Linked DNA regions of Homo sapiens. The protein of the gene in region 1 purifies or fractionates together with the protein of each later gene. This does not show direct contact. Each region holds a gene or a part of one and is shown in the gene's direction. Other genes may lie near its edges. The genes, in order: RNF103, HADH and PEPD.

Region 1 (3,500 bases):
TCTGATTCTGTATTAGCTGAGAAATGGTGAAGAGATACATACAAGCTAGCTCCAGATGTTTTCCTCTAAATCCTTCATCTTCAAATAATCCTACCTCTTATTTACAATTGAAGCAATGTTTTTTTGGATAACTTTTTGCTTTTTTGTTGATTGTAGCTATAGTTTTTGTTATTTAAAAAAGTACTTCTACTCAGCTTCATCAGAAAATGATTTTGTTGCACAGTGACTTGTACCAGTTCCAATAATGTGCCCATGACTCCTCATTTGGAAAGTCCTCCAACTGGAATAAGAATTGTTCTTGCCATAGAAGCTATGCTTAGTCAGGGTCATTTTTCTTTTCTTTTGATGACTATGGAGATATAGAAGAACAAAATTTAGAGATATAGAGAAGAGTGTTCAGAATTTCAATGCAGGGTGTAAGTGGGCAGAGAATAGTGTTATTCAGGAAGTGTTTTAATCACATATTTTGAATAATTGAGTCATCATCTTGATTTTGGAGTTTTAAAAATACCAAAACTCTGTGCCCCACTGTCTATGCTGCATTCTTTGACTGTAGTCCCTTCTCTGGGGTGGCCTCTGGGCAGCTGACTTCAGTGTGCTGGTCCCACTGTACAGCTGTACTTTCCTGACCTGTTTAGCTCCTGCCTTAGTCTGTTTTGTGTTGCTGTATAAGAATACCTGAGGCTGAGTGGTGGCTCACGCCTGTAATCCCAGCACTTTGGGAGGCTGAGGCAGGTAGATCACCGGAGGTAAGGAGTTGGAGACCAGCCTGGCCAACATGGTGAAACCTGTCTCTACTAAAAATACAAAAATTAGCCAGGCGTGGTGGCGGGTGCCTGTAATCCCAGCTACTCGGGAGACTGAGGCAAGAGAATCACCTGAACCCAGGAGGTGGAGGTTGCAGTGAGCCGAGATTGCACCACTGCACTCCAAGCCTGGGTGACAAGAGCGAGACTCTGTCTCAAAAAAAAAAAAAAAAAATACCTGAGGCTGAGTAATTTATGAAGAAAATAGATTTATTTAGCTCACTGTTCTGCAGGCTGTATAAGAACCATGGTGCCAGCATCTGCTCAGCTTCTGGTGAGGCTTCTGTGCTGCCAGAACATGGTAGAGAAGGTCAAAGGGGAAGTGGACACATGTGAAGGGCATGTGGCTTTATGTCAGCCCACTCTCGAGGAAACTACTCCATTTCCACAAGAACTAATTCAGTCTTGCCAAAGCTAGAACTCACTAACTTGAGAGCAGCACTAAGTGTTCATGAGGGATCCACCTCCATGACCCAGACACCTCCCACTAGGCCTCACCTCTCAACACTGCCACACTGGGAAGAAAATGTCAACATGAGGTTTGGTGGGGACAGACAAACCATAACCAAACCAGAGTAGCTCCCTTAAGAACATTTAGGACTACCACTTCTGAGCAACTTCTGACTGTCTAGTTGTAGCAGCTTTAATTTCTTTCCCTATGTACCCAGAAGGAGTGGCCTTGCCTGGCTCTACCTCTTCTCATTCCCTAACCAGCAGATCGATTTCAGAGGGCTTTTCCTGTGAGGTTCATACTCTGTACTTTTTTTGACAAAGTAGGAGATGAGGTGGTAATGATGTGTAGAGAGGGTTGGGGAGATGGGGATTAGTAAAGAGAAGATAGAGGACATGGAAATTGCAGGAGCTGAGTGGTAAACAGGAAGCCTTATGGCAAGAGTGTCAGGGATGGTGGCCTGTGGAAAAAACGGGGAAGGAGAAGAGAAGGGGGGATTGCAGAGAGAGCGAGGAAAACCAAGGAGGCCAATGACCTTGTCTGAAAAAACAGCATATATAAACAGAAATGTTAAGGTTTCTCTCTCTTCCTTTCTTCCTTTTTTTTTTTTTTTTTTTTTTTTGAGATGGAGTCTCACTCTATTGCCCAGGCTGGAGTACAGTGGCACGATCTCAACTCACTGCAACCTCAGCCTACTGGGTTCAGGCGATTCTTGTGTCTCAGCCCCCCAAGTAGCTGGGATTACAGGTGCGTGCCACCATGCCCAGCTAATTTTTGTATTTTCAGTAGAGACAGCGTTTCACCATGTTGGCCAGACTGTTCTCAAACTCCTGGCCTCAAGTGATCCACCCACCTTGGCCTCCCAAAGTGCTGGGATTACAGGTGTGAGCCACTGAGCCCTGCTTCTTCTTAAATATAGCATGCCACATCAGCAACTGGAAGACCAAAACTCACAAGGCATATTTCCTATCGTTTTTAGTCTTAAAATTCTCTAAGAGAACTCAAAAGGTTTAGTTTAAAAACTAGAGGATATTTTCATGGTATTGTCATTGAATTTGTTCAGATCATAAAAAAATTTTTTTTGAATTGGCAATAAAAGTTTTTATATTGATGTAAGGTAATACAACCTTATTCTATCTGGAATGATAAAATTATTACTTAGCTCTGAGCTGAAAAGAAAGCACATAATATGTTTGTTTTCTTATGTGAAGAAATGTCTGCACTTAGAACTTGTTCATTTTACAAAGTAAGTTTTCTGTCAGAAAGGCTGTCATTTAATTTATGACACAAATCAGAGGCCATAGTAGGAAGATAAAATAGATGGCCAAGAGTTGAAATGTGTCATCACAAATATCAAGTGCAATGAAAACATTAAAGATACTTGAAGATATTTAAGATATAAATAAGACAGTTGTCCATATGCATTTGACTTGTTACTTTTTTGGGATACGGTAAAAATAGAATTCATGTCAATCAATGAATTATTATTTTGCATTGAGTAGAAGATATTTATTTTGTAGGAATATATACTTTTCAGACCATTTCAGTTAAAACAGTAATGATATTAATGGAATCTGTCTTATTAAGGTAGTGAATCAACTCAACAAGAAGCTAAGAGTCACAGTCTGTGATTTTGAGTCACCTAGACAGTTTTCCAGAGTCATCACTAACCTTGTCTTAAGACATAGCGTGTTGTCTTCATTTATCTTAAACTATATCACAGAATCCCTGAGATAAAATTAGTCATATTATCATTATACAGCCATATGCTACCTACGTCAAGACTCTTCTCTTCATCTGATCATATGATGTGTAATATGTTTATTTAATAAAATATAATCCATGCTAAGTAAAGCATAACATCTATGACTTTTACATCAATATTCTGAGTAGCAAAATGCGAAGTCAGATATTTATTACTATGCATATACAAATCTGTAACAAATAAAACGTTTCCATGTGGTAGATTGTCTTTTTTACAACTTTATTGAGGTAAATTTTACTTAAAAATTTCACATGGTAGGTTTTGGAAAAAAAAATACTTTTTAAAAACAAAAGATTAACTCTTCTGTGTGGTACATGAAAAACTAACTAAAACCAAAAACAAAAGGCAGCCTGGGCGACATGGTGAGACCCCAACTCTACAAAAAATTCTTTTAAAACTTAGCCTAGCATGGTGGCGTGCATATGTGGTCCTAGCTACTCAAGGAGGCTGAGGCAGGAGAATCGCTTGAGCCCAGGAG
Region 2 (3,722 bases), on another chromosome or scaffold:
GTCTGGCATGTAATAAGAGTTCACAGAAAGTTAGCTGCCTTTATAATAATTATCTTCGGCCCGGCATGGTGGCTCAAGCCTGTAATCCCAGCACTTTGGGAGGCTGAGGGGGGCAGATCATCTGAGGTCAGGAGTTCAAGACCAGCCTGGCCAATATGGTGAAACCCTGTCTCTACTAAAAATACAAAAAAATTAGCCAGCATGGTGGCATGTGCCTGTGGTCCCACCTACTTGGAAGGCTGTGGCAGAATAGTCTCTTGAACCTGAGAGGTGGAGGTTGCAGTGAGCCGAGATCGCACCACTGCACTGTAGCCTGGGCAACAGAGCGAGACTCCGTCTCAAAAAGATAAATAAAAAGAATAATCATCATCTTCATTGCAGTTGTCCTGTCCTTTTGCCCTTTTCCCCTCATATCCACTCCCATCCTGATCACAGCTGCTGAGGTAGGCCTGTAAGGTTTAGATGGAGAATATTGGTCATGATTCCCTGTTTCATCTTGCTTAATCTTGAATGCATATACCCGCTGATGCTGCAGCGGGTATGTTTTTTCAGGGACCTCTGAAAGGAGGGAGAACACTTTTTAGTTACCCCCCATTTTATTGTTAAACTTTAGTAAAGCCATAAAAGTACAATCACAAACTAGTATTGAGGTTATGTTACTGATTTTCATTAGCTTAATTTTCTTGAACTTTCTGACGTGGTTTTAATGTTAGTCAAGGTGCAGTTCTGCTTATAATTTTAATAGTTTTGTCATTTTAAACACGTCAGTTTGTGCTCAGAAGGATGAAAAAATATTTAAATAGATTTTGTGGGAGCCTGATGCATTTCTCAAGCAATTAAGCAATTTAAGACAAGTTCAGTGCTTAATTACATTTGATCAGAGCACAGGCCATTTGTACATGTGTATTTTCCGAGAGTATCTACTTTGCCTGTCATTTCTTTTGTTTGTTTTAAATTAAAAAAACAAAAAATCCCTTAGACTGCAGGTTAATATTTGAAGTTAACTTGTTTCATGTGTTTGCTTATTACACACTTCTGACTTGGTTTTGATTGCTAATTTATCTTCACTGGATACTTAGGCCAATAAAGAAGCTTATAGGATTAAATGAGCCTTGAGTGGGGGACAGGTTGTTTTTTTGCTTTATAAAGAGGAAAACAAGAAAGGAAGAAAGCTGGTAGCTGTGTGCATTTCTCCAGTATTGAATCCTTTCTAGGCTTTGCTTCATACATTGGGTTTTTTCATATGAGGAGCCCAGAGAGAATGCATAGCTTTCATTAGATTACTTGTGAGGAGCCAGTGGGCTCCCTGGGAACGGGGCACTTCAGATGTCCCCCTTGAGACACTTTACATGCTCTCCGGGTGCAACCTTCTTTTTAGTGCACTACTCTTCTTTGAGGAAGTGAGAAAGTTTGCATCTTAAAGGGGGTTGGGGATAGGTTCTTCTCTCCCAAAGCTTGCTTTTTTTTTTTCCTCCTTTTTAAAAAGCAGAAAGTGCATATTTTTTCTAGAGAGAGCTTCTTTGGCTATTAAAAACAAAGTAAGGGCAGGGAGAGCCTGCTACGTTGCAGGGATTTTGTGTGACTCTACCATGCTTGATAAGGATTCAGGTAGACCTGAAAGCTTCTCCCCAGCCACTGGATTTGTTCTCTCATCTCTTCTTCTTGCCCCCAAATCTGCATTTTCTGATGCTGAAAAAGAGAATGATCAGAGTTGTTTCATATTTTTTTAGCTTTATTCTCTTCTACTGTGAGTACAGCTCTGTTGAGCTGTACAGTACAGTACTGCTTTGCTTGCAAAGCAGTACAGATGCCTAGGAGAAGTTTCAGGATCACAGGAGACCAGCAGTTACCTGGCTGTAAGCTCTCCTTTTGACTGTTCCTTATGGAGGGAATATTTGTACTCCCAGTTGTTACCTTCCTGCTGAAGGACATGAGATGTGTCTGTTTGTTATGAAGTTTTCCCCCTACTTCCCGAGTTGTTGCTTATCTTTGTTGGGCTGTTCTCTGCTCTTGGTTGAGGTACTGGGATGTAGAACCACCCTCTATTAGCATATTAGTTATTGGACTCTGGGTGAGGTTGGAGATACTGTCATTCCTAGAGGGTAGAAGAGGTAGGGCTCACAGGCAACAGAAAATAATGCTATGGGATATGTTTGGACATTTTTTAGAGCAGAAATGGCACTTCAGTCAGTCAGGTTTTGGCATTTTCCTGCCATGTTCTGCCTCCAGCTTTAATCACTTGCCCCTTGCTTGAGTTTCTTCTTTCTTCCCCTCTCCCTTCTCTCTTATCTGTGGTAGGCACACACACCTCACTCTCTAGTTCTCCTGGGACCACAGGAAGATAATGTGGATGTTCTCTGTGGCTCCCCCTGTTATATTCATGATGTTATTATTTCTGGTAGTGGTATTCTAATCTCAAAAGTACAGGCTATGAGGTCCCTGCCAGGGTTTAGATGCTAGCCTTCCTATCCTGCCTTTAGGAACCTTGGGCAAATCACTTAACTCCTCTCTGCCTCTTTACTTACCTGGGAATAATGAGACTCACCTGACAGCTGTGAAAGTTAAATGAACTAATATACAAGCTCCTAGAATAGCATTAGTGTGTTTGATAGTAACTGTCTGATAAATATTAGCTGCTTTCACATAGACCCATCAGACCTGATCTAGTGAGGATTTCTCTTAGATTGTCTTCACTGTCGGAAGAGTTTTGATATAGGGAGTTCCAGCAATTCTAAAGATGTTAAGACTTATTTATGTGGGTTGTTGAGAAAGATAGTGTACCATTTACTGGTTTTTGTAGAGCTAAAACCACTCTACAAAATATGACACTTTATTCTGTTCAAAGAATTTTGATTTATTTAATTTCATGTGACCATTACAATAATCACCCCTGCAGAGATGGTTCCTGGGGTCAATGGTCAGAGGCAGAGCTGGGGTTAGAACTTGAGTTCTCTTCTGTTCTGCTGCCTGTAAATCCCCAAGCCTGAATTCAGTTCTGCCTGCACCTCTGGCAAGTGCTGTATTGTGGGGAGAAGTGTGGCATCCATGGCAGGGGATCCTCTGTGGCTCTCTGGAATCAGTACATCCCAGGTTGACGTCTCCTTGGCTCTGGACTCAAAGTTAGTCTACCTGCTGGTCGTCTACATCAGGGTGCTGTGCTGCCATCCTTCTGCCCATGGTAGACTCAAACTCACCTGCCAAGATCTAATTCATTATTTCCCCTCCAGCTTTTTCCAGAGAGCTTGCCCCTCCTGTTGCTGCAGTTGTTCTTCCAGCCACATGTACTCTGAAGATGGGATCACAATCAGTGTCTCCATACCAGAAAAGGCTCTGTAACTTTTTGGTCATGGGAGAGCTCTTTCCTCTGCCCTCTCCTTTGCAGTTCCTAGACCAGGTGTGTTAACCTGAATTGTCATGGGAGCCTCTTAATTGGTCCTTTCAGCAAAAACTAAAAGAAAAAACCCACTCATCATGGCAAACATTGTCATATTAGTCTTCCTGGAGAGGCATTTGGATTTATAACTCTCCTCTACCCGGAAAGTGTCCATCATAGCAACATCTTCCAGGGATTCTTAAATATAACGATGCTGTTGACATGTCTGGTTATCCCTTTACCTTTTCAGAATTTGTGGGAGGTGAGAAGTCTGGGAGAGGTTATCTGGGTTATTATGAAACCTACACACTTACTGAATTAAAAAAAAACTATGTAACACAATTCTAGT
Region 3 (4,330 bases), on another chromosome or scaffold:
GCCACATTCCTCCTGGCAGCTTTGGTCTCTGGCTGTGCCTGCAGGTTTGAGTGTAAAACCCTCTAGCAGCCCTGTGAGGTGGCCCCATTAGCTCTCTCCTGACAGATGAGGACAGCAGGGATGGTACTGGGCTTCCAGGTAACTGTGCCACGTGCCCTTCACTACCCTGCTTATGGCTGGCTCCCTTGCTCCTATTTAAGGGGCCTATTCTCCTCCCTGCTTCATGGGGACAAACAGAAGCTGCTTCTCCAGTCATAGCCCCTGGCTCCCACCAGCCTGGCCATGGTGACCCACATCCTTGTTTCGATAAAGAAACAAGAAGCATCCCCCAACCCACAACCTTTGATCAGAAGCCACTTCCAGCTGTGGGACAGCTGCAGGGTGGGGTCAGGAGCCCCACACGCCTATCCTGGGCCACCCATCCACCTGTCCACACACATCTGTACACCACACACATCTGTACACCCTTGGCGCCAGGGACGCCCTCCCCCAACAGTGTGGGGCCCCCTTCCTTCACAGGGGCAGTGAGGTCACTCCTCAGGGTATGGCTTCATGAGCTCAGCCTCTGTGTGAGCACTCTCTGGCCTCAGTTTCCTCATCTGTATAATAGACTTAAAGATAGTCTCGACCTCATAGGGCTGTGGTGAGGTTTCTATGAGCTCACATGTGCAACGCATTTGGGCCGTGCTTGTAATGCCCTGACTCTGTTGGCAGTAGGGAGGGCAGCGTCTGCTGCAGGGTCCCTACACCTTCTCTGCAGGACTCTGCACCCAGTACCAGTGCCCAGTGGGGCAGAGGAGTAAGCCTTCTGGCAGACTCTCCCTCCTAAACCCTTCTCGGCTGTGCCCACTTCTCGCCTGCCCTCCTCCCTGGCTTCCCTTCCTCCAGCTTCTCCATTCTGCAGCCCAGGAAACCTAGAAAAGATCCTACCAGACTTAACTCATAGGCCCCACAGTGGAGGCCCCGCAGGGTCTGGCCCTTGCTTCCCTTAGGCTGCCCCTCTCTCGCGCACATTCTCCTGGACGCTGCACATTTAGAGTCCTCCAGTTGCCCCACGGCCTTTGCTCAAGCCCTTTCCCTTCTTAAACAAAAATCGCCACCTCTGCCCCGACCCTAGCCTGGGTCAGTCTCCCTCCTCTCCTCCCACGTGGTTTCTTTATTCCTATGTGTTCTTCTCCCGGGTGGGCTGGTACGCCAGATCGGGGACTGAACCAGAATCAAGATGTCCTCTGCTTCAGGACCTCCCTCCCACCACGAAAAGGCTGCAGATGCTGCCCGCTAACCCGACCTACTGTCTGCAGCCGGCAGCCCGCTCATTTATCCTGGCCGAGCTCTTGGGCCCCCAATCTCCGGGAGCCCCGCCCCATCGGGGCTCCGCCCTTCCCCAGGTACCGCCCCTTCCCGTCCCGTGGAATTTGGCTCTGGAGGAGGTGGGTCAAGGACTCCATGCCCCGCCCCCTGCCCCGCCCTTACCCCGCCCCATGCATTGGCACCCGGAGGGGCTCAGCTGACGCCGCACTTCACGTGACGCCGGTGCCGGGCGAACATGGCGGCGGCCACCGGGTGAGTGCTGCGCCTCCCTCGCTCTTTCCCGCTGGCGTGGAGAGGGGCATGGGTGTCCCGGCCGGACCGCGGGTGAGAGCGTCAGCCGGGGTCGCTGAATGCCGCGGGTAGGCGCCTCTTCCCGTTGGCCCGGAGTCCCAGCGCCGGTCGGCGAGCTGCACGCTCCGAGTCAGGGTCAGCGCGGGGGCCGCAGCTCCTCTCCACCCTCCTGGCTGGCTCCGGCCCCACCTGCCCGCGTCTGGCGGCCCCACCGTGTGCGGCTGCGGTGGGGGCTGGGGTCGACACGCATGTTCGCTGCCAAGACCCCCGGGTAGGAGGGCGGCGTTGCGAGGACCCCAGGGACCCGGGCGCTTCCCGGAGGAGGCGGTATTCGAGACGGACTTGGAATTCCCTTTTCCCAGCAGGGCACTTCCCCATTTCTTTCAGGGGCCAAATGTCACCCCCTCAGGGAATCCTTCTCTAACCATCTATCCCACTTTTTGTGCCCTCATCATCACCTGATAAACTATATAGAGCATTGTTTGTACTTGTTCTTTATCTTCTCTGCATTTAGAGTGCAAGGGCAGGTATGTTACCTGCTTCTCAGTAGCCCGGTGCCTTGCACACAGTAGGTGCTCCATACTGGGCTAAATGAAAGAAAGCTGAGTGGTCGTAGTGGGAGGAAGGGTGGACAGATGGGTTCACCAGAGCGTTGGGCGGAATCTCCCAGATAGGGAGCATCTGAGCCCAGGGTAAGGGACAAAGGTTGAGAGTTCAGAGTGTTCTGGGGACAGGGGTGCATGCCTGGGGCTGGTTGGAAGGTGTGGTGTTCCAGGTGGCGGCTTCAGACTTTGCCCTGATGGGCTGGAAGGGTTTTGTTACAAGCTGCTTGATCTGTTTTTTAAAGATTAGGCTCCCCTGAGCTATGTGTGAGTTCAATGGGAGAAGGTGTGGGTCTGGTGGTACAGTGGGGTAGAGGGGGCATGGTGTAGGAGGGAGCAGTATTCCAGATGCCAGGTTGGAAACTGAGGTCAGAATGGGGGATCTAGTGGACTGAATGCATCTCTCTTTTTAAGATACAGGGAAAATGGCAACAGAAAGTGGGTTCTAAGTTGGCCCCCAAGGTTGAGGGAGCTTAGAGCATACAAATCAAATATTTTGTGGGCACCTGCTATATTCCAGGAATAGCAGTGGGTCTTCCCTTAAGGTACTCACAGGCCACTGGAACAGATGGACACATGGGACTCTGTCATCCATCTGCTTGCCGTGTGGTCTTGCCATTTGCAAAGGAGGGGCATGGACTCTGAGCTCAGATAAAGTGTGGGAAGGCTTCACTTCCTGGGTGACTTTTGTGCTAGTCCTTCAGCAATGAGACTCCCTTCAGGTAGAGAACAGTGCAGACAAAGTCTCAGATGGGTGTCAAGGAACTCAGGGTCAGATCCTTGAATCCAGCCTGTGACCCTTTTAAAGGGTAGACTGAGCAGGCTGGTGCCCAGCTGTGGGTGTGCTGTCTCTCTGGTTAGGCTGGCTCGGTGCTCACAGGGAGTGCCAGGGGTTGCATTTGGGTTCAGGATTCCAAGCTGGCCTGAGACCTGCTGCTCTCCTGAAGGAACCAAGCTGATGTCTGGACGGGAGCAAGTCTGGAACTGACTGGATCCTGGAATGAGAGCTTTTCTTTTTCTCTTTCTTTTTTTTTTTTTGAGACGTAGTTTTGCTCTTGTTGCCCAGTCTGGAGTGCAATGGCATGATGGCTCACTGCAACCTCCACCTCCCAGGTTCAAGCGAGTCTTCTGCCTCAGCCTCCTGAGTAGCTGGAATTACAGGCGTGTGCCACCACACTCAGCTAATTTTTTGTATTTTTAGTGGAGATGGGGTTTCACCATGTTGGCCAGACTGGTCTCGAACTCCTGACCTCAGGTGATCCACCCGCCTCCGCCTCCCAAAGTGCTAGGATTACAGGTGTGAGCCACCACGCCTGGCCCCAGAATGAGAGCTTTTCTAGCAGAACCGATTCTCTGGGCCACCACACAGGGTGGGTGAGGGAGGCAAAACAGAGTGGCAGGTCTTAGAGAGGTCTGCTATTGAGAGGGTGTGGGAGCTTCCAGAGCCTGGCAGTCTCCTTGGGAAGAGCCATCCCAGTCTGGTATGGGGCTTTCCCATGTACTTTGAGCCTGAGGTTGACCCCAGTGGCTTCCTTTAGAGCAGAATGATTAAGTGTGTTTCCCGCAAAGCTCAGCTCCTAGCCACACTCACAGAACAGATCATAGAGTCAGGCATAACGAGGCATGATGCCAGCAAGTCACGGCCATTGCCGTGGGCTCACTGGGAGTTGGGTTTGGTTGTCTGTAGAATCCTACCAGAGCCTGGGACAGAGGGGGTCCATGAGAGTTCCAGGTGACTGGGGTGTGCCCCATATGATTTGGGGAGTAGGGGAAGCCCTAAACTAGCATCTCAGATTTAATTTGAAACTCAAGAATCTACTCTGAATGCATCTCTCTTTTTAAGATGTGGGGTGTTTCAGGGTTGATCCTACTTTCTCTTGCTAGCCTGGGTGTAGGCTTCAGGTTGAGACAGAGTGCGCTGAGGTCACCTCCCATCCCCTCATGGAGAGGGGTCCCTATCCCATGGCACTTGGTGGCACTGCTGCTGTCTCCTTAAGCAATGCTTTGAGCTTTCCACAGACAGGATTGATAATTTGAAATCTGTCAGCTCCAGCCAGACCTGTCTGCATCTGCTCTCCCACATGGCTTTTTCCATTCCCTTCTTCCCTTGCACACTCACCCAACTA

What was found.
Region 2: the proteins of RNF103 (region 1) and HADH purify together in Homo sapiens (affinity purification with mass spectrometry, with the first as the bait; one large-scale study listed by BioGRID). This does not show direct contact.
Region 3: the proteins of RNF103 (region 1) and PEPD purify together in Homo sapiens (affinity purification with mass spectrometry, with the first as the bait; one large-scale study listed by BioGRID). This does not show direct contact.

Annotation. Positions count from the first base shown.
Region 1 is NC_000002.12:86,606,866-86,610,365, reverse strand, and holds part of RNF103 (E3 ubiquitin-protein ligase RNF103), read left to right. Parts: intron 1-3,500. UniProt on the Homo sapiens protein: Acts as an E2-dependent E3 ubiquitin-protein ligase, probably involved in the ER-associated protein degradation pathway.
Region 2 is NC_000004.12:107,992,776-107,996,497, forward strand, and holds part of HADH (hydroxyacyl-coenzyme A dehydrogenase, mitochondrial isoform 2 precursor), read left to right. Parts: intron 1-3,722. UniProt on the Homo sapiens protein: Mitochondrial fatty acid beta-oxidation enzyme that catalyzes the third step of the beta-oxidation cycle for medium and short-chain 3-hydroxy fatty acyl-CoAs (C4 to C10).
Region 3 is NC_000019.10:33,518,977-33,523,306, reverse strand, and holds the start of PEPD (xaa-Pro dipeptidase), read left to right. Parts: upstream 1-1,515; 5' UTR 1,516-1,546; coding exon 1,547-1,563; intron 1,564-4,330. UniProt on the Homo sapiens protein: Dipeptidase that catalyzes the hydrolysis of dipeptides with a prolyl (Xaa-Pro) or hydroxyprolyl residue in the C-terminal position.